3 linked regions of the Homo sapiens genome follow. The protein of the gene in region 1 interacts with the protein of each later gene in a pairwise test. Each region holds a gene or a part of one and is shown on either strand. Other genes may lie near its edges.

What was found.
Region 2: the proteins of KRT86 (region 1) and CEP57 interact in binary tests that used the Homo sapiens proteins (3 or more experiments, as listed by UniProt).
Region 3: the proteins of KRT86 (region 1) and MAPKBP1 interact in binary tests that used the Homo sapiens proteins (3 or more experiments, as listed by UniProt).

What each region holds. Positions count from the first base shown.
Region 1 is NC_000012.12:52,277,572-52,284,682, reverse strand, and holds part of KRT86 (keratin, type II cuticular Hb6), read right to left. Parts: intron 5,743-7,111; exon of another isoform or gene 5,527-5,742; intron 1-5,526.
Region 2 is NC_000011.10:95,821,455-95,828,565, reverse strand, and holds part of CEP57 (centrosomal protein of 57 kDa), read right to left. Parts: intron 6,696-7,111; coding exon 6,588-6,695; intron 6,582-6,587; exon of another isoform or gene 6,232-6,581; coding exon of another isoform or gene 6,175-6,231; intron 6,068-6,174; coding exon 5,990-6,067; intron 781-5,989; coding exon 539-780; intron 1-538. UniProt on the Homo sapiens protein: Centrosomal protein which may be required for microtubule attachment to centrosomes. May act by forming ring-like structures around microtubules. Mediates nuclear translocation and mitogenic activity of the internalized growth factor FGF2, but that of FGF1.
Region 3 is NC_000015.10:41,770,489-41,777,529, forward strand, and holds the start of MAPKBP1 (mitogen-activated protein kinase-binding protein 1), read left to right. Parts: upstream 1-3,995; 5' UTR 3,996-4,122; intron 4,123-4,678; 5' UTR 4,679-4,787; coding exon 4,788-4,901; intron 4,902-7,041. UniProt on the Homo sapiens protein: Negative regulator of NOD2 function. It down-regulates NOD2-induced processes such as activation of NF-kappa-B signaling, IL8 secretion and antibacterial response. Involved in JNK signaling pathway.

The sequences.
Region 1 (7,111 bases):
ATTAAGAGACCAGAAGTGAGTGGACTGAAAAGAACAAATTCTCCTGTAAAAGCTAGAATCAAACCAAGGTCTCTCAGCCACCCCTGATGGAATTCTGAGAGGGACACAATCCTAGAAAGTTCCAGAATTTGTGATCAATCATTCCAACCAGCCCTGTATGCTGTGACATCACACAGCTCAGAAGCTGGCCCTAGGCCAGGTGCAGTGGCTCACACCTATAATCTCAACACTTTAGGAGGCCAAGGTGAAAAGATCGCTTGAGCCCCAGAGTTAGAGATCAGCCCAGACAATACAGTGAGACTCTATCTCTATAAAATATAAAAATATTAGCTGGGCGACGTGGTGTGCACCTATAGTCCCAGCTACTTAGGGGGCCGAAGCAGGACAGCTTGAGCCCAGGAAGTTGAAGCCGCACAGTGAGCCATGTTTGTGCCACTGCCTCCAGCGTGGGCGACACAGCAAGACCCTGTTTCAAAAAAATAAAAAAACAAGAAGCAGCAGCAGCAGCAGCAGCCCCTGTCAGGAGTCCAGACCTGAGACTCAAGCACCAGCTCCATCCCTCCCTAGTTCAGAAGCCAACTACAACTCCAGTCCTGATGGACTTCTCACCTATTCCAACTTCAGCCTAGCTGGGCCTTAGTGACCTGCCGTATTTCACTCCCTCACTCTCCCTCTAGCTCTGACCCTCTCTTCCTTCCTACTCCGGCCCCACAATCCTCACCTCCCTCTAGGTTCCCATTCCTGCACAGGCTCAGACAGAGGAGCAAGGCGGGAAGGAATCAAACACATAATGCCCCGGGTGCAGAATGGTGAAGAAAATGGAACATCTCACTGTGTGACCTTTAGCAAGTCACCTCCCATCTCTGGGCCTTAGTGTATCTGCTAATGAAATACAATGTTTGGGGCTGGGCGTGGTGGCTCACGCCTGTAATCCCAGCACTTTGGGAGGCCGAGGTGGGCAGATCACCTGAGGTCAGGAGTTTGAGACCAGCGTGACCAATAGGAAGAAACCCCATCTCTACTGAAAATACAAAAAATTAGCCAGGCGTGGTGGTATGTGCCTGTAATTCCAGCTACTTGGGAGGCTGAGACAGGAGAATTGCTTGAGCCTGAGAGGTGGAGGTTGCAGTGAGCCAAGATGGCGCCATTGCATTCCAGCCTGGGCAACAAGAGCGAGACTCTGTCTCAAAAAAAAAAAAAAAAAAAAAAAAATGCTTGGATTAGGTGGCTACTAACATCCCTTACCAATTTAAAGCTCTATTATTCTTTTTTTTTTTTTTTTTTTTTTTTGTGAGACAGTTTCACCCTGTTGCCCAGGCTGGAGTGCGGTGGTGCAGGCTCAGCTCACTGCAACCTCCACCTCACTAGTTCAAGCAATTCTCCTGCCTCAGCCTCCCAAGTAGCTGGAACTACAGGTGCCTGCACCACACCGGGCTAATTTTTGTATTTTTAGTACTGACGGGGTTTCACCTTATTGTCCAGGCTGGTCTCAAACTCCTGACCTTGTGATCCACCCACCTCAGCCTCCCAAAGTGCTGGGATTACAGGCATGAGCCACCGCACCCAGTCAACTCTGTTATTCTTTGGGAGAGGTGGGACAGGATTAGGGGCTAGAGGGAAATGGGGAGTCCAGGTTTCATGCAACTGTGCAGTGTATGCGCATGTTGTTTGTATATTCATTCTGCATTGCTCAATGCCTAGAGGTAACTGCGAGTGGAGCAATATGATTGCATCCAGGTACATGCACATTCCAGGCACCTGTGTGGAAACGTGTGTGTGAGAGAGATGGTGAGGGTTTCTAAATGTGTGATTATACATGGTGGACATGTGTGCATCTATGTGCTGAAAAAGGGAGATTTGTGGGTACATGTGGATGTGAGTGCAGTGTGGGTACATGGGTAGACCCATGTGTGCTGGTGAGGTAGGGGTCACCGATGGGGAGTGGGGCTAAAGTGGGCGTAGTGATGGGCAGATGCTGCTGGGGGTCATACTAGGGAGGTGCCCTCTGGCCAAGGAGCCCTTGCTCTAACCCCTAGGCTTGCCTACTTATTCCTCCTGCCCTATGGTCACTCTCACTCCAGGTGGGGCAGATGGAGTTCAGCCACCCTTGGACTTTGGAGAGCTTTCTTTAAAGGGGCTCAAAACTTGGCCGGGCGCGGTGGCTCACGCCTGTAATCCCAGCACTTTGGGAGGCTGAGGCGGGCGGATCACGAGGTCAGAAGATCGAGACCATCCTGGCTAACACAGAGAAACATCGTCTCTACTAAAAATACAAAAACAAAATTAGCCCATCACGGTGGCAGGCGCCTGTAGTCCCAGCTATCTGGGAGGCTGAGGCGGAAGAATGGTGTGAACCCGGGAGGCGGAGCTTGCAGTGAGCCAAGATTGCGCCACTGCAGTCCAGCCTGGGCGACAGAGCAAGGCTTTGTCTCAAAAAAAAAAAAAATTGTTTCAGGGGGCTCAAAAACCTTCTAAAGAATTCCAGTAAGTGAAATAATAGTTACACTTACATAACTTCCTATGCTTTAAGCACTTTACATGCAGCAATACCTTTTCTCAAACAACCCTCTGATAGTTACTCTATTTTGCAGCTAACCTTTGGCTCAGAGGGACTAAGTAGGGAAGAAAACAAGGAAAAAGAAAGCCAAGCACAGTGGCTCACATCTGTAATCCCAGCACTTTGGGAGGCTGAGGCAGGAGGATTGCTTGAGGCCAAGAGTTTGAGACCAGCCTGGGCAGTATGGTGAGACCCCATCTCTACAAAACTTTTTTTTTAATTAGCAGAGCGTGGAGGCATGTGCCTGTAGTCCCAGCTACTGAGGAGGTTGAGGCAGGAGGATCGCTTCAGCCCAGGAGGTTGAGGCTGCAGTGAGCTATAATCCTGCCACTGCACTCTAGCCTGGGTGATAGAGCAAGACTTCATCACTACAAAAATAAATTTAAAATTAAATAAGAAGGAAAAAAAGAATCTTCACAATTTAGATCTAGAGGAGGGCAGGACTGAGGCCCAGAAACAGGTGAAGAGTTTGGACAAGGTAAGAATAAGACTGGGAACAGGATCAAGGCCCTTCCTTCCTTACTCCAGGCTGGTCTGGTTGATCTCTTACAGCTGAAATCACAGCAGGAAGGACTGCATTTAGACTCCACAAGAGACTTCCAAGGGGTTATGCAGAATGCCACATGCCAATGGTCAAAAACAGGGCCCAATACATCTCAGGACAGGACACACCAACCAGGACCATGCAGCCTCAACCCCATCACATCTACTCTGTGGCAGACCCTGAGGATGGATGAGACCTTCACTGCCCTCCTGGGGCTCAGATAGAGACATGACCACAGCCAAGTTAGCATCTGACATGTTTAAATACAACGGAGTGTGAGGCAGGCATGCAGAGCCAACAGAGGACTCACACCTTATAGTGCCCTTCTGCTGAGAAGCAATGACTGAACTGAGGACAGCCCTCCTCCCTTCAGAAGCCACCCGACTCACAAAGCTTATAAATGGGCTGGGGAATGACTCTCCATAAATGCACTGGGCAGTTTCCTCCCACCCCAGTCTGGAATGTGGCCCATGGCCAGGGGAGCCTCTCAGGGAATTAGTCTCCAAACCACAAACATTGCTTGTGATCCACAGGGCCCTGGCCCAGGAAGAAACTCAAACCTGACCCCAAAGCCCTGGGGATCTTCTGGATTGACATCAGGCAAGTCCAGGTTCGGTATTTGAAAAGGGAAAATGTGAGCAACAGTCCTGAGTGACGCAGGTTGCAGAATGTACATCCTAGATCCTGCCTACAATTCCCACAAAGTTCCCTTGTTGACATGATCATCATAGCAGGAGCTGGAGAAAATTGGGCTTGAATAGCAGAGAATCTCATGATCCCCTAGCAAAATGCAAGGAGCACAGAGCTGGACTAAAGAATCTTGAAAGAATCTTCAGGCAGCTTGTTTGCATTTGCGAGTGTTGGCAGGTCAGTATTTATCAACCAGGGCTGATGTGTGAGCCCAGTGGGGTCATGCCCCCTACCCCTCAGGAGGGTGGCATCCGGCTAGCCAAGTTTCAGTCCCATTCCTCTTGCATGAGACTTTTCTGTTTACACAAGAAGAGGGCCTTTTGGATACCTGTCCTCTGGGCAGGCACCCAGAAGAACACAGCAGACACTCTGGCACTAGAGTGCCTTAAAAAGTAAAGCCCAAGCCTCTGGCCAATGACGCACTTCAGCCCCACCCAGGGACATAGAAAGCAGAAACTATTGTTGCATTGATGATGTAATTTCATGCAATAGAAAGGAATGTGGGCTCACTGTACAGAAGCTTCTCTTGGGTCTGTGTGGCAGGGAAAGAACCCAGAAATCCAGCCTTTATCTAGCCACCCCACTCTATCTTCCGACCACCAAAATCCAATGCCTTGTAAAAACTCGGACCAACTTACACCCTGGATCTGAAGTAGAGACAGAGCTGGAGCCTCCGTCTGATTTCACAGCCCACAATTTCCTCCACCATAGTGTGTTGTTCCTCTGCCCGCCACCAGATCATATTAACACAACTCGGTGGCCCAATTGTGTGTTAAACCAGAACCCAAGCTTGGGCCACCCAATTGTGTTCATCTCTCTCCAGCCCCCATCTGCAAGGGCCACCTGTCTTCAAATGCCCCATCAGGGTGATAGAAGGCACTGGCCCAATCCCCATCTCACCCTTTTCTGTTTCTGCTCGGTTTCCTCGTCTATGGCCCACCTCCCTACCCAGAACCTCATCTCCAGGAATCCTAGAGTGTCTTCCTCACCATCCTGTCCCCTGAACCAAGCACTATGAGGCCATTCAGTAAGTATGTGTAGAGTGAATGGATGGATGGAGAATGGAATTCTCAGCTCTGCTGCCCAGAAGCTATGGGCCCCAGGCTAGACTCTTCTGCATGAATGAACCCTTTCTCTCGCTTTCCCCATGGACTCCGGGCTCCCCATCCTAAAGACTCTGGTTCTATAATATCGAATCATCATATACTTAAGTCACATAGACCCTCACAGCAGGAGGGGAGGAGGTTGCTTCCTGGTACTGTTCTCGCCCTGACCCCTCCACCGCAGCCAGGTTTGTCTGTGCTCTGGGAATGGCCTGGAGAATCCGGGTTTAAACTCCTGGCAGCTCAGACCACTCCACAACTTTTTATTGCAGAGAAGTCCCTGGAAAGAAGGGGTGGGAACAGTTCAGAGGGGCAGGGTTCTTGGTCCAGGTAAGCTGGCCACCTCTACCCAATGGCACCAGCGTCCAGGCCATCTGCACTGGGGATGGTCAGTCATAGTCCTGTAAGCTGTGCTCCAACGCCTCACGTCCCGGTGTGGGAGGCAAAAAGGAAAGATGATGTGGGGTCAGCTCTATGGGAGGGGGCATCTGACACAAGAGGGCTAAGTCTTTAGGGCAGAAGCTGAGGGTTCCTTGTCTTCTCCGGAGGGAGGCGGGAAGGGTTCAACATCTGCGGGAGCTGTGTAGCTAAAGCCCACGGACACAGCCGGGAGAGCCGCAGAGCGCGTAGCCGCCGCCAGGGGCGCTCGTCTCCAGGGCGCCGGAGCCTGCTCGGGGCTGGAGCAGGCAGGCGGAGCCCGGCTGAACGGAGGACGACTGTCCGAGGGAGGAAAGCCCTTCCTCCCCCCACCCCAAGCCCCAGAAGACAGACTTGCAGACATCTCCTCCAGATACACAGACCCTCCTCCCCACCAGGAGACAGATGTACAAACTCCCCGAAAGGAACAGGTAAACAGACCTCTCCCCAGAGAACAGACCACAGGACCCCCTTCCCCACACACGCAAACGCAGTCACCCCCGAGAGAAGAAATAGCCCCCGACAAAAGGAGAGGCACAGAGGGAGCTGTCACAGACACAGGAACAGAAACACAGCCCTTCTGCCTTCTCAAGAGGAGGCACGCCAAGGTGTGGACGGGGAAGGAGGGAATAAGGAGAATAAGATAATAAGATAAGATCCGACCATGCCAGCCTACTGTTTACTTACTGATGCTCCTTGCCCCAAATCCCAGACCAAGCCAGCGGAAAGAAGGAAGCAGGTGAGTCCATCTGTCTACTAGGTTTGGTATTCTGCATTCCCCAGGACACACACTCCTGACCCTCCCAGACAGCAGTCCTTCCACCCTGCAAGCTCCCTGGCGCTCTCTGATCACTCCTGCCTTAAATTCATATAACTCACTTTTGTTGATGACTTTTTGGAGGAAAGAGAAGACCAAAAAAAAAAAAAAAAAAACTACACTTTCTTTGGCCTGACTTGATCTTGGAAGGTGAGACCGTGAGGGAACATTTTAAACCTCTACAGGAGACCCCAGAGCAGGTAGCTCCATAATCTGAAGACTAGTGTGTGTCCCTAAAGCTGTCACTTAACCTCTCTGAAACTTACCCCTCATCTGTAAAATGGGGATAATAGGACCTCCCTGCCAGGGTTTTGTGAGGTGTTAAAGGAGGTGATCAATGCAATATGCCTGTGGCATGGGTGATCAGTTCCCCCTCCCTCCCCTAGCCTGGTGACAGCCCTTGTCTCCTACTGTTGTCTACTGAGTTGAAAGCCAAGCCCCACCTGGTCATGTAACCCCACCTTCCCCAGGCCTGGGGAGAGGGGCAGAGTTGAGAAGAAGGCACTTCACACAGAGACCTTATTCCCACTGGCTAGGCCTTGGTCCCTGCAGCTGTCTCCATGGACAAACCGGCCCCTGGTCTCTGATACTGGGGTGGATGACTATGGGTCACCCCGTCCCAGGTGCCAAAAGTACACATCAGCTAGAACTTTTTGTTCAAAGGGCTGTAAGATGGTGAGAGAAACCTAGCTCTAGAGGAACGAGTTCCTGGATACCTAGGTCATCTCTCTCCACCCTTCCCTGGCTGATGAGCGTGGTGCTGCCCTGTGCCCCTGCACTCCTCACTGCAGCCACATCTGAAGCACTTCCCAGCTGACCCATCATCCACTCTCTTCACCCTCCAGCAGCTTGTGGCAGGCAGCAATCTCAAAGTCCAGGCCCCACTTGACGATCACAGCTCTCAGTACTCACACAGCTGCTACATCACATCCTGCTTAGCTCGCTGCAGGGCAGCCTCCAGCCAAGCCAGCTTGCCCTTGGTG
Region 2 (7,111 bases), on another chromosome or scaffold:
CAGATGATGATGTAGTAAACAACAGACCACATATACAACAGTGGTCCCGTAAGACTTTAGTATCATATTTTTACTCTACCTAGATGTTTATATACACAAATACTTACCATTGTGTTACAACTGCATATAGTATTTAGTAGTAGAGTAACATGCTGTATAGGTTTGTAGCCTAGGAGCAATAAGCTATAAGCTTAGCACACTCTTATGTTAGCACAAGGAAAAGAAAATCGCCTAATGATGTATTTCTCAGAGCACATCTTTGTCATTCAGTGATGCATGACTGTATATCATAAGTTCTCAAAGAAATAAAACTTAAATATAAACCTTGGTCTTCAAAACATTTAACAGTATTTAAAAAGAGAGAGATTTTACCCTTATTAGTTGTATTTGTTAAAGTCCCAGTAACTTGGTTGGTATAAGGATTGTGCTCAACCATACTTGCTCAACAAAGGAAAGTAAGATTTAATAAAGTCAACAAGTTTTTAAAAAATGAGGTTTTAGAGCTAAACTGAATTTAAAAAAAAAAACAAAAACTCACAAGCTCATTTGCCCAAATTCATCCTGTAAAGTCTGTAAGACTTCTGACAACTCCTCATTAATACCGTTGGAGGAGGGAGGTGTTACTGACAACTTCTTACTTTTACCACCTCGTGAAGATACTTGCTTTGCCAAAGGAATACTGTTGATGACTCGATCATTGCACAAAGCTTTACTGTGTTGCTTCATTAGATGCAAGACAAGCTGAACATTGGCTACCACGGCATGGCTAGGGCTTGTGGACTAAAGGAAGAAAAATGATGAAAGAAGTAATTGAAGTTATATTCTCTACACCACTTTCTATTCCCTAAGCCTAGGTAAAAAGAACTCTCCACCCCCTAAAGTAGAGTATATAAATCCTAAAATTATTCTCATCATGATGTTCTTCTATTTGAAATCCTTTGATATAAATCCACTAACTATGTTTCAGAATGGAAAATAAGGCCCTACATACACATCATTGAGCTGCAACCTACATTTCCTAGCCTCATGTCCTATCATCCTCCCCTTCTCTCCATTTTGTGAACAAACCATATTTGCAGATGACATTTTTTTGGTGTATTAGCAACATTTATATCATTCTTTAAAACCCAGTTCAAATATATTATTTTTAAAGGCTTCCTTAAAACTGCCAGGTAATCAATCAGTCCATTATCAGATCACCTATAACACTTTTTACATCTCTCTCATAGCATTTATCATATTTTAATTGCTTTTACATATCTATTTCACCTATTAAACAGTGTACATCCAGGTGGTAGACACTATTGTTCATTTCTGTATCCTGGAATAATAGGAAGCACTAAATTACATGTCTATCACGTGTGTAAGAAAAACCTGATAGACTTCTCAAAGATATTTTGCTTTTGTTTTAAACACTAAACCAACAATCTCAATGTACTATTCCACTTTATAAATAGATGGCTGGGCTTACTTGGCTCCATAAATATTATTAGAAAGCATATTTAAAATGCAGGTTCCTAGGCAGCACACCAAACTCACTGCAGAGTTAGGGTTTGGAAATTTGTGTTTTCAAGTCCTCCAGTTGATTTTGATTAGCCAGATTTGGAACCACCATGCTAAGCTAAACATATGCTTTCCTTCTAATCTTAGTTTCTATTGTTAGCTAGCAAAGTGAATGCAGCAGTATTATATATCACATCCAAGTGGGAGTTTATTACATCAATGCAAGGCTGGTCCACTATTCAAAAATCAATCGATGTAACCACTATTTTGCTCGTAACTTGTAATATATATTTAGCATACTAATTGCCTATGAGTACACTTTCAATATGCAATAATTTAAAAAATTCTCGTTCTGTTATTTTTCTGATTATATTAATATGCACTTGACCCTTGAACAATGGAGGGGTTAGGGGCACCGACCACCCATGTAGTCAAAACTCTGCCATAATGAAATTTTTTTTTCCTTCAACTTTTAAGTTCTGGCGTACATGCGCAGGTTTGTTATATAGGTAAATGTGTGTCATGGTGGTTTGCTGCACAGATCAACCCATCACCTAGGTATTAACCCCAGCATCCATTAGGTACTCTTCCTGATGCTCTCCCTCCCCGTTGACCAACTCCCCCACCAAACAGGCTCCAGTGTATGTTGTTCCCCACTATGTGTCCATGGGTTCTGATCATTCAGCTCCCACTTATGTAACTGAGAACTATAATAAATTTTGCCCTAAAATGTAATAGCCTGCTGTTGACTGGAAGCATTTTTGTTTTATGTATTGTAAGCAATATTCTAAAAGTAAAGTTAGAAAAAAATATTAAGAAAATCCTAAGGAAGAGAAAGTATATTTACTATTCATTAACTGGATCACCATACAGGCCTTCATCCCCATTATCTTCACTGTTGAGTAGGCAGAAGGGTAGGGTTGGTCTTGCTGTCTCAGGAGTGGCAGAGGCAGAAGAAGTGGAGGGGGAGGCAGGAGAGGCTAGCACATTCTGTGTAACTTTACAGAAATACACTATAATTTGTCTTGACTTTTCTGCTTTTTCATTTCTCTAAAAATGTTTCTATGAGATACCAATTCTTCCACCATTTGTTTTAGTTTCAGTGATGTATCATAGAAGGGTCGATGTCGTAAAAGTCAAAAGCAGGCTGGGCGCAGTGGCTCAGCCACTGGGATTACAGTGGGATTACAGAATCCCAGCACTTTGGGAGGCTGAGGCAGGTGGATCACCTAAGGTCAGGATTTCGAGACCAGCCTGGCCAACATGGAGAAACCCTGTCTTTACTAAAAAAATACAAAAATTAGCCAGGCATGGTGGCGCGTGCCTGTTGTCCAGGTACTTGGGAGGCTGAGGTGGGAGAATTGCTTGAACCCAGGAGGCAGAGGTTGCAGTGAGCTGAGATCGTGCCACTGCACTCCAGCCTGAGTGACAGAGCGAGACTCCGTCTCAAAAAAAAAAAAAAAAAAAAAGTCAAAAGCAGTCTTGAATAATTAGAACCCTTCTGTCAGATTATCTAATGTCAACTTGTTTTCTGACATTACTTCTGTGTTGTCTTCTTCATCTTGTGGCACTGGTTTGAAAGCACTCTTATCCATCCCAGTCATCTTCTGTTAATTCCTCTATCATGGTGTCTACTGACTCTTTAATTTCTCCAAAATTCGTATCTTGAAATCCTTCACCTCCAACCTTTTTTGCCATATCTACCATCTTTTTCATGATTGGCTTTGTCATAAATCCTGTGAAATCATGCATATCACCTGGAGAGTTTTCTCCAACAGGAATTTATTATTTCAGACTTGATGGCTTTCATGACTTTTTCTATAAAAATGATGGCATCATCTTCAACTGTAATCCTTCCAGACCCTCATAATGTTCTCTCTGAAGTTCTCTTCCACAGCATTAAGAACCCTTTTTATAGTGTATGTAATGTGCCTTAGAAGTCCTTATGCTCCCTGATCCAGAGGGTGAATTAGACACACTGTGTTTAGGGACAAGTAGACTACTTCCATGCCTTTGGTGTTGAACTTCCATGCTCCTGGGTAGCTAGGGGCAATGCCTAGTATTAAAAAGACTTTAAAAGGCAGTCTCTTACTGGCAAATTACTTCCTGACTTCAGGGACAAAGGATTGATGGATCAATGTTTTTTCTAAATCCAGTTTAGAAAAAGGGTTCTCAAAGGGTCATTCTTGTTGTAAACCCAAAGACTGGCAGTTGGGTATATTTCCCCTTGAAGGCTCAGGGATTAGCAGCTTTATAGATAAGGGCAGTCCTGATTGTAAATCGGATTGTGTTTTCACAAAATAGTAGATTTAGCCCGTCTCCTCTTTCCTTAAATCCTGGTGCTGACTTGTCCTCCTTACTTATAAATATCCTTCGTGGCATCATGTTTTTCCAGAATAGGGTACTTCTGTCTGCATTAAAAGCCTGTTCAGGAAGATACCCTTTCTCCTCAATGATTTTCTTAATGGTATCTTGGGATTCATCTGCTGCCTCTTGGTCAGCAGAAGCTGCTTCTCCTATCTTGACATTTTTAAAGCCAAACCTCTAAAATTATCAAGCCATCCTTTGCTGGAATTAAATTCTCCAGCTTTAGATACCTCACCTTCCTTTTAAGTTGTCATATAATGACTTTCCTTTTTCTCAAATCATATTAGAGTCTACAAGTATGCCTTTCTTATAGCAATCCTGCATCCACATAAAAGCTGCATTTTCAATGAGATAAAAAGCTATTTTGCAAAAAGCACAAGGTTTTGGCACCTGCTAGAGTAGCTGCAGTGACAGATTCACAATTTCCTTTTTTTTTTAAAAAAAATTTTTTAAAGAGGATCTTACTCTGTTGCCTATGCTGGAGTACAGTGGTGCCATCATCGCTTACTACAGTCTCGAACTCCTGGGCTACAGTGATCCTCTTCTGTCAGCCTCCTGAGTAGCTGGGACCACAGGTGCACGCCAACATGCCGGGATCATTTTTTTTTTTTTTTTTTTTTTTACAATAGGCCTTCAGCTGGATTCATTTATTTTGAAATGGTGGACAACCGCAGCTGCAGACCTCAATCTATGGTACATATCAAGCAATGCAACTTTTTCTTGTCATGTCATGACTTTTGTCTGCTTCTTGGGAGCACTTCCACCATCATTAGTAGCACTTGATATGGGTCCCATGATATTATTCAAATTATTTACTGTATTGTGCTAAACATGATGGAAAATATGGAACTGCTAGAGAACACTTTTTACTGTGATACACAATTGACTGGAGAGATGAACTGCTCATTTGAAGATGATTAGCGTCACGTGGCATTTTAAGTGAATACTCCCAACCCTTGAGCTCATCACAATGGCAACAGAAGGTGGCTACAAAATTATCAGTCGTACAGTATGTACTACAGTTAATTTTATACAGTTATGATTTCATACTGCATCTTTATCTCTGTTTACATTTCTCTGGACTGTGAATGGCGTCACGTAGTCTGTGTGCAAATTGTTTTGATAAATTATAATTAAAAAAAACTTGTGTATATTTTATGGTAGTAAATGATAAAATGCACTAGTATTGACATAGTCAATTTTATGCATCTATGACATACCAACTTTTTCTTAACTTCTGATATTTCTAAGCTATAGTTTGCAAGTTTTTTCAAATTGCCAAAAATCTCCAAAAAATTTTCCAAGATACTTATTGAAAAAAAAAATCTGCCTGTAAGTAGACCCACACAGAGTTCGGACTCATGTTGTTCAAGGGTCAACTGTACCTTTTTCAAATGCTTGTCACCACTAATTTATTATATTCCCCATGATTTCACTGCGAATTTACTAGGGGTTTAAAATAAATAAATATAAACAAATACAAAATTCAGAAGAACATTTACTTCCCAAGATGCCAGAATAACAATCTAGTTGGAATCTAAATATAAAACCACCAGCAACACAAACAGCTTATAAAGTAGTGTCAACTAGCACAGTTTTAGGCACTTCACTCAGTACTTGATATATGACAATACAGCTTTACATTCAAGTGCTGAAGAAACTGAAGATTCAAGTGTACGTATGACTGCTTCTTGGAGAATTAGTCCTAGAAATGATCTGGATGTGAGGACAAGCAGAATGTGCTACGTGCTTATTCGAATATCTACCTATATCTAAATGTAACTCAACAGGATTGATACTAAAAATCCAATGCTACAAACATACTATTTCTTATTTCCTTGACCCCTATCTGAAACAACACCTTCTTCAACTTAGGGTCTCTGTTTTATCACTTCCTTTCCACATATACTTTATCTACTTTAAGGTATCCTCCCCATCTCTTCCTTGCTTCCCTAATCCCCAAAAACCTCCCTACATCTCATTTTCACATCACTGTGATCCACACACTGGTAAAGGCACAGAAAAATGTTCCTTCCATTTGTAGACATACTTGCAGATGCAGGGACTTAATTCAGGGATCAATGTTGTATAAAAAGAATCCGGAGTTTGACCAACTCACCTTCCCAGCTACAAATGGCATATCACCCAAGCATAATCTATAATGTGGTTGTGCACCAAAATAGTTCCTAGAACTTTTCTGAATGAAAAGAAAAGGAAAACAATTTTATTTTATTCACATGATAATAAAAACTGACTATACATGACTAACTTGAAACTTCAGTTAACTACTAGGCTACTACTTGCCTTATCTATAGTTGGCATTATGATCACAAGCCAGCTCCTAATAGTACTTGTTAGCATATATCCTAGCCTAGGAAAGGCTGGGGGGAAAAAAGCACTTGACAAAACAACAGTTACATTCTAAGTAGAAAATCAGTATACATATACACAAAACATTGTAAGAGCACAAGATAATGCAGTACTAATAATGCTAATTTTGTATGGTGTTCTGTAGTTCCAAAATGCTTATATATTTTCTCACTATCAGGATAAAAATTTAGGAGTAGGTATTACTTATCTCCACCTTCTGAATGAAGAAATTGAGAATGAAAGATTTACTCTCTCAAGGTTGTAGTACACCACACAGTTTATGGGTGTTTTGACATAAACTATACCAAGTAATCAGCATTTTGCCTGATTTGGTTCTGTCTTCACACCTTTTCTGGTGGTTTTGACTTCTTTTTTTTAATTCTTCTTGCATTGGGAACACACGGAGTTGCCTTATCTTCAAAGATAAGTCTATTTGTTTCTAGACCAGTCTGCAACTAGGAAAAATGAGAGCCTCAAGTTAATGCTGTAGAAATAAAAGCTATGACTCAGATTTCAGATGTGTCATGTAAAAAGCCTGTAAAAACCAATGGTAGTATCTAACTGAAAAACATATTACAGCTGTATAACTATGTCTTGAACCAATCTATCAACGTTTGTCAAATATTTTAAATAAATACCAGTCTCTCATTTTATCTTGACCTTCTGTTATAATTTGTCCCTTCTTCAGCGTGGAACACATTATCTCCAGTATTTGTAGTTACTCCATAAATTCTATCTAACGAGTTAAATGCAATGTATCTAACCCCAAACCATTGCTTAAATATATTCTTTTCAAAAATGGCATCTACTACATTACCAGACACAAAACAGCCGAAGAGCAGAATACATTTCTTCCCTTTCTAAAAAGCCA
Region 3 (7,041 bases), on another chromosome or scaffold:
TCTTCTATAACAAGTTTGAAAATGTTTTGAACACACAAGAAAGGCAGACAATCCATATGTTATTTTTGGTTTAGTGGTTTAGATAATTTTTTTTCTAACTATACTGGTTGAGATATTTGAAATCAAATAGGGTGATGCACTTTAAAAACGGGTCTAGAAAATAGTGACAGCCCTTGTCCCTCACTCCAGAATTAAACAACAACAAACCATACACAGCACATTTTCCAGGTACTTTTATAGAGAATGACTGATAACCAAGAATCAGAATACATTTCTTGCACAAAACTGTTGGTTTTGAAGAAGGTGCTGTAAAGGCATCAGTACTTCATGTCACTGTATTATCACTAATGAAATTTTTATTTTTATTTTTTTTGAGGCAGAGTCTCACTCTGTCGCCCAGGCTGGAGTGCAGTGGTGCCGTCTTGGCTCACTGCAAGCTCTGCCTCCCGGGTTTACGCCATTGTCCTGCCTCAGCCTCCGGAGTAGCTGGGACTACAGGCGCCCGACACTGTGCCCGGCTAATTTTTTTGTATTTTTTTGTAGAGACAGGGTTTCACCATGTTAGCCAGGATGGTCTCAATCTCCTGACCTTGTGATCCGCCCGCCTCGGCCTCCCAAAGTGCTGGGATTACAGGCGTGAGCCACTGCGCCCGGCCTACTAATGAAATTTTACATGGACACAAATATCTAGGTGCAGGGAAAATTAAAGCTGAGATATTCAGACTCACTGCCAGTTGGAGGAAAAAAATCAGTTATAACGCATTTTTTGGAATAGAGGGAAATAATTTGATAAGTACAACTTTTTGTTTGAGGTGTAGCTAATGTTAGACATGACTGAGCTGTTCTACACATAAGTGTTGAATAGTGATGGTGGTGCATTAAGAGGATGGGAAGACTATGGGATGAGTTGGAAATTTTGAGACAAATCTAAACTCTACTAATTTCTATTGTTGTAAACTCTGCTGGTAGAAAAGATATTAAGTAGGAAAGCAGTCTTGGAAGCATGGTTTTGAGATCCATTGTGTTTCCAACTGCAATCATTGATCTCAGCTGTTGCACAGTGCCTTTGCATGTAAAGGTGCTCAATAAATATTTGAATTGATGAGCAAATGTTTAGACTGTTTCCCAGGAACTTATACCTTATTTGCATGTTATGCCTAGGGTGAATTTTAAAATTTGATCTAATGAGTATAGTGCTAAACAGACAACTATATAACGTCTATTCCCCAGACATCTAGAATTTCAGAAGCTGGCAAACACTATGTATAGATGTTTAGGACATATAAAAGTAGAATAAAGTGTTAAATAGTGTATGGATGATGAAATACTTATGAAGAGTTAACTGCATTTTGGAGGATTGGGATGGCAAGTAGAGTCATGCGTCACTTAATGATGGGGATACGTTCTGAGAAATGCACCTTGGGTGGTTTTGTTCTGCAAACATCATAGAGTGTACTGTACTTAAACAAACCTAGATGGTGTTGCTTAACCACACACCTAGGCTGTGTTGCTCCTAGGCTACAACTCTGTACAGCATGTTAACTGCACTGAATATCATAGGCAGTTGTAACACGTGGTGTTTGTGTGTCTACACATAGGAAAGGTATGGTAAAAATATGATATTATAATTTAATGGGATCATGTGGTCATTGAAATGTATACAGTGCATGACTGTAAATCTGAGTGGAGAAAAGTGAATAATGCTTCTGTTCACATTAGACCTGGGACTGTTATTTTCTGAGGAATTAATGAAGAATGGGAATAGCCTATATAGCTTATTCCTATATTGGTATCTCAAAGGCAGTGTAGTACCTAGACAATAAAAGTTGGACTGAATTGTGAAGAATTAAAAATGTGTGGGCCGGGCATGGTGGCTCACGCCTGTAATCCTGGCACTTTGGGAGGCCAAGGCAGGCGGATCACGAGGTCAGGAGATCGAGACCTCCTGGCCAACATGGTGAAACCCCATCTTTACTAAAAATACAAAAATTAACTGGGTGTGGTGGCGCGTGCCTGTAATCCCAGCTACTCGGGAGGCTGAGGCAAGAGAATGGCTTGAAACCAGGAGTCGGAGGTTGCAGTGAGCTGAGATCGCCACTGCAGTCCAGTCTGGGGACAGAGCAAGACTCTGTTTAAAAAAAAAAAAAAAAAAAAAAAAAAAGCGTGGCTTTGGCCTAAGACTGGAAGTACCCAGATTCCAGACTTAAGAAATCCTCATTAAAATGCTTTCAGTTGTTTTTCATGAAAGAAATGACCAGTGATACTTTGTAAACCATTTATCTGGCCATGAGTGATCAGGTGAGAAAACCGTTAGCGGACACCAGAATGATCTGGAGAGGATTAGGGACGGCTCTTGTGGGCACATTTTTACTCTAGTTTCATGGGTGGAGATGGCATCTGCCGTGGTCTGCAGCATGCAAGTAAAGACACCAGGTGGCACCATTTATTAGCTTTCAATCCCATGGAGAGGTCCCATCATGTAACTACCAAGAGGTTGAAGGAACCAACTACCTCTTGCATATTGTAGCTAATGGTTCTTGCCTTCTTCTTCCAGACTTGGGAAATAAATTTGAAAATCGTATTTTCTGTTTCATAATATTTGCAGTGCATGGTTGAAGGGAAGAAGGCCACGTGCTATTGCCAGTTGGTCTCCAGGAGGTGACATCCATCATCTCCATGTCAACTTGTGAGCTTTACAAATCTAATTTTCAGTACGTGGCTACAGTATACACAAGAAAATATGTGCTTTGCCACTTGGCTCTAAAGGCTCACCGTTGTACACAAGCAATGAGTTTAGGGGTTCTTCCCTCTTGTTATCACATGTCATCTCCACAGGGTTTCAAAAGATCTGGATAGGGTGAGACAGACACACCAGTGTAGTACTCCCTTGGGTCCCTTGTCTTTGGCTTAGGCTTTTTCATAAGGTATAATAATTTGTTAGAGGTTCTTCCCTCTTGCAGACACATGTCATCTCCACAGGGATTCAAAAGATCTGGATAGGGTGAGACGGACACACCAGTGTACTATTCCCTTGGGACCCAAGTCTCTGGCTTAGGCTTTTTCATAAGGTGATTTCTTGTGGTAGTAGTCAAGTGGAGAATACTCAGGAAATACTATTTCATGTAACATTTCCGTGTATTCCCTCTGCCTCCCCCGACATGAGTTAGAAAACTACCCCTCGATCTAGTATCAGCAAGCTCGACAGTGACCTCAGCAAGGAACAGCCCTAGATAAAAGGATTCATAAGTAAATGGAATGAGGAAAAGATCTGGAGCAACAAAGTCCTGGTCAGCTTTAGGTGAGGAAGCACAATGGGATGTTGGAGGCTAAAGAAGCCATGAAACCTAAAGTATTATAACATAGCATATTCACTTCTCTTTCCCCCGCACGCCCAAAGCTCTGTTCAAGGCCACCCTTTCCCCTTTCATGATGACCAGGTTGCCCAGTGCAAAAATACTGTTCTTAGCTATTAAATTGCATTACTCAGAATAATCCTTTCCACGTTGAGTCTACGTGCCGGACTGGCTGCGAGCAGAAACTACTTCAGTCGCTTTAAATCTCAACACTTGTGGTCGCTGGGAGCAGAGCTTTTAGGCTGTAGCTCAGTCTTGTAATTCTGAGCTAGGAGTTTCAGCTACGGTCCCTCGGGCCTATCAGATGACAACCTTAACACCCTGGAGGCGTGGTTATCGTCTTGGGGCTCTGGGAAGTGCAGTTCCATGGGGGACCAGGCCTGATAATACCATAAAAGGCTTGGTTCTCTCAATTCTGAAGCCATGTTCTGTTGACCTTCCTCTAAAAGCGGTACCCGCAATTGTGCGGATTCCGTGGTTCCCTAGTCCCAAGCCGTCTGCTTCCTGGGCCCTTTCATTGGCTCCGCCCCCGTAAACCTTGCTCGTCCACTCTGGAAGCGCTCTCCTGACTACAGGCCGCGCCCCTCGCGTCGGCTCCGCCCACCCAGCCCGCGGCTTGGCCCAGGCGGTAGTTCGCGTTTTGAGCCGATCGTGCCACCATAGCTCCTGCTGCTGCCTCTACCGCTGCGGCTACCGCGGCGGAGCTGAAATTGCCGAACGCGATGCCCGAGGGCGCTGTGAGCGGGGTGGCCTTAGCTCGCCGAGGCTGGTGAGGCTGGGCCCGAACGGGGGCGCTGACGAGTAGCAGGGGCCTCAGAGGCGGGTGAAAGATAAAGGTCCAGAGCCGCTGTGGAGGGCGGAGAGCGAGCTCTGGAGGATAGGGAGTGGGGGAGGGAGGCTCCCGTGGCAGAACGAGTTGTGGGCTACGGCGAGCCCCGCCGCGTCCCCGCCGGCGCTAGCGCAGGTGTCCAGGCCTGCGGAAATCCCTGGTGGTCTCGGCGGCCTCCTCCCTTGGACACTACAGTTGCCATGGGAACAGTTGGGCATTAACGGGAACCAGATCGTCCACGAGACCAACTGGGGCCCATCCCATCCATCTCGCCAGTTAAACGCCTCTGGCGGGCGTGGGCCTGGCATTTCTTCGTGGCTTAGGATTTTCCCCCCCTTTTTCGTGAGCCTTTCCTTCCGACGTTGTAAGAAACTGTGCAGGGCTAGAAGGTGGGGATGAGGGAAATGGTGAGAGCAATACCCAGAGGTAAAAGCTGCAGACTTCGCTAGGCAGAAGGTAAGACACTGTGATACTAAGGTGGCTTCTGCCATCTCAGGTCAGTGAGAGGGCATACTGGGAAGCCCTCTGGAGTGGGAAGACAGTGCCGCTGTTGAGACAAGACCCAGGACTGGGCCGGGGACTGTCCCAAAGGGTTTCTCGTCATAATGGCTGTGGAAGGGTCAACCATTACCAGCCGGATCAAGAATCTGTTGAGATCTCCATCCATCAAACTGCGCAGGAGTAAGGCAGGAAACCGACGAGAGGACCTCAGCTCCAAGGTGAGTCCTGTTGGGATCCACCTCTTTCCAAACCCACCCTCTCCTGCTCCATGTTCCTCGTTAACCTTCCTGTTTCTTGGGAAAGATAACTAGAAGCCCTTGTTGACTCTAAAGGATCACATATGATCTCTGCAGGCAATGATTTGGTTTTAGGTTGAAGGAAAAAGAGCAGCAGGGGTGGGCATGCTGAGATTCATCCATGAGAAAAGGTGAATAGTAGGAAGACCACCTGGGTTCAATTGTGGCCTCACTATACACTAAGCATGTGCTTGGGAAGCCAGTTGATATGCTATGACTCAGTTTCCCTTCTTGGGAGAGGACAGTAGGAACACATACCTTGTGAAGGGCTAAGCTGTGACTAATGTAGCTGCAGGTGTTAACGTAACAGCTGGGGTTATGTAAGACTGTAGTGGCAGAAAGAAATATGCTAAAACACCTAGTCAGAGTTACTGGCTTGGTAATTGCTCTTGCCTACGGTGAAAACAAATTTTTTTTGTCTCTTCAAGAGGCTAACTGGAGCCTTTTGGCTTCTTAGGAATAACATGCAAGAAGCCAGATATCTGTCAGCAAAACAGTTCTGGATGGCCCTTGAGCATTGCTTATCTCATTCACTATATGCCAAGAGCCACATCCCACTCAGCTGCAGATGATCCTCAGAGGCAAAGTTCCTTTCCATCGCTTCACTTGTCTGTGTTTTGGTCCTTATGCTTTTTCAACTAAATAAACCCCACAACTTTGGGAATCCAGAAGTAGTCGACATTTATTTAATCCCTTGAGGGAATCCAGGGCTTTACTCCCACAGGATCAGATCAGATTTTGTGTCTTATTAGTAGCCTGTAAACCCAATAGGGTTGTGAGGTACAAGGTTGTTACAGGGAGAGGCATTTGAGACCACAGCATTGTATTGCTTTGCCTGTATCTCTTCAGTGATGAGTAAATCCCATGAGGAATGATTTAGAATGCCACTGTACAAATGGCAGGGTTCTGGGAGGACTTAGTTCAGCCCTGTGTTCCTTAGCAGAACTTTGAGTAGATTTGGTAAGAAGGTGAAGAGCTTTCCTGTATATTTCAGCAGAAGTTGTGTTGAATCACAGTTTGCTACAAGGTTTTGTGATGGTGGACATTGTGACCCTTCCAAGGTCTCTTATTCATCATTGTTTCTATTCTCCTGAGGCAGGCAAAGAAGCCTGAAATGTAGAAATTGCCTTAGATATGACTCTGTTCATTCTTAATACTGCAAGTGCTCTTATTCTTGGCTGGTAGCTTGGCAGTGACCAGCACTGTTAGAGCAATCTTCTCCAATCTTTGGCCTCTTTTTCTGGCCAGGAATGATATATGTAGTAGAAACATATAATGAGAGTTTAGCCTTCATTGTTAATTCTTACTGTAATTTTGGTCTGGAATCCAGAAAGTATAGTTGCCATTCTTTAAGACTTCCAATATCATCCATTATTAATGCATTTAACAAGTGTTTATTGAGTGCCTATGAAGTGTGCAATCAGTGATGGGTAAAACATTACCCTTGCCATCAAAGAGCTTATGGCTAGTCAGACATGTAAACAATTAAAACACGGTGTGGTAAGTGCTGCTGTAGAAGTATGTGTACGTTGTTAATGGAAGCACAGGGGAGGCGACCTAAGTCAGTTCAGAGGAATTAGGAAAGGCTTCACAGGCCAGGCATGGTGGCTCACCCCTGTAATCCCAGCACTTTGGGAGGCCAAGGCGGATGGATCACTAGGTCAGGAGTTCGAAACCAGCCTGGTCAAGATGGTGAAACCTCATCTCTACTAAAAATACAAAAATTAGCCGGGCGTGGTGGTGCATGTCTGTAATCCCAGCTACTCGGGAGGCTGAGGCAGGAGACTCGCCTGAACCCGGGAGGCTGAGGTTGCAGTGAGCTCAGATCCTGCCAGTGCACTCTAGCCTGGGTAACAGAGCAAGACTCCGTCTCAAAAAAAAAAAAAAAAGGAAAGGCTTCACAGAGGAAGGGATGCTTGAACTGTGAGTCCTAAGGCAGGTGGAGAAGAGCTCTCCAGGAAAACAGTGGAAAAGGGGCATCCCTGGCAAGACCATTTACCATTCCCTGTTTAAAATAGGAATTCAGTGCTTCAGACTGCTTTAGATGGCTTTGTCTGTCCTG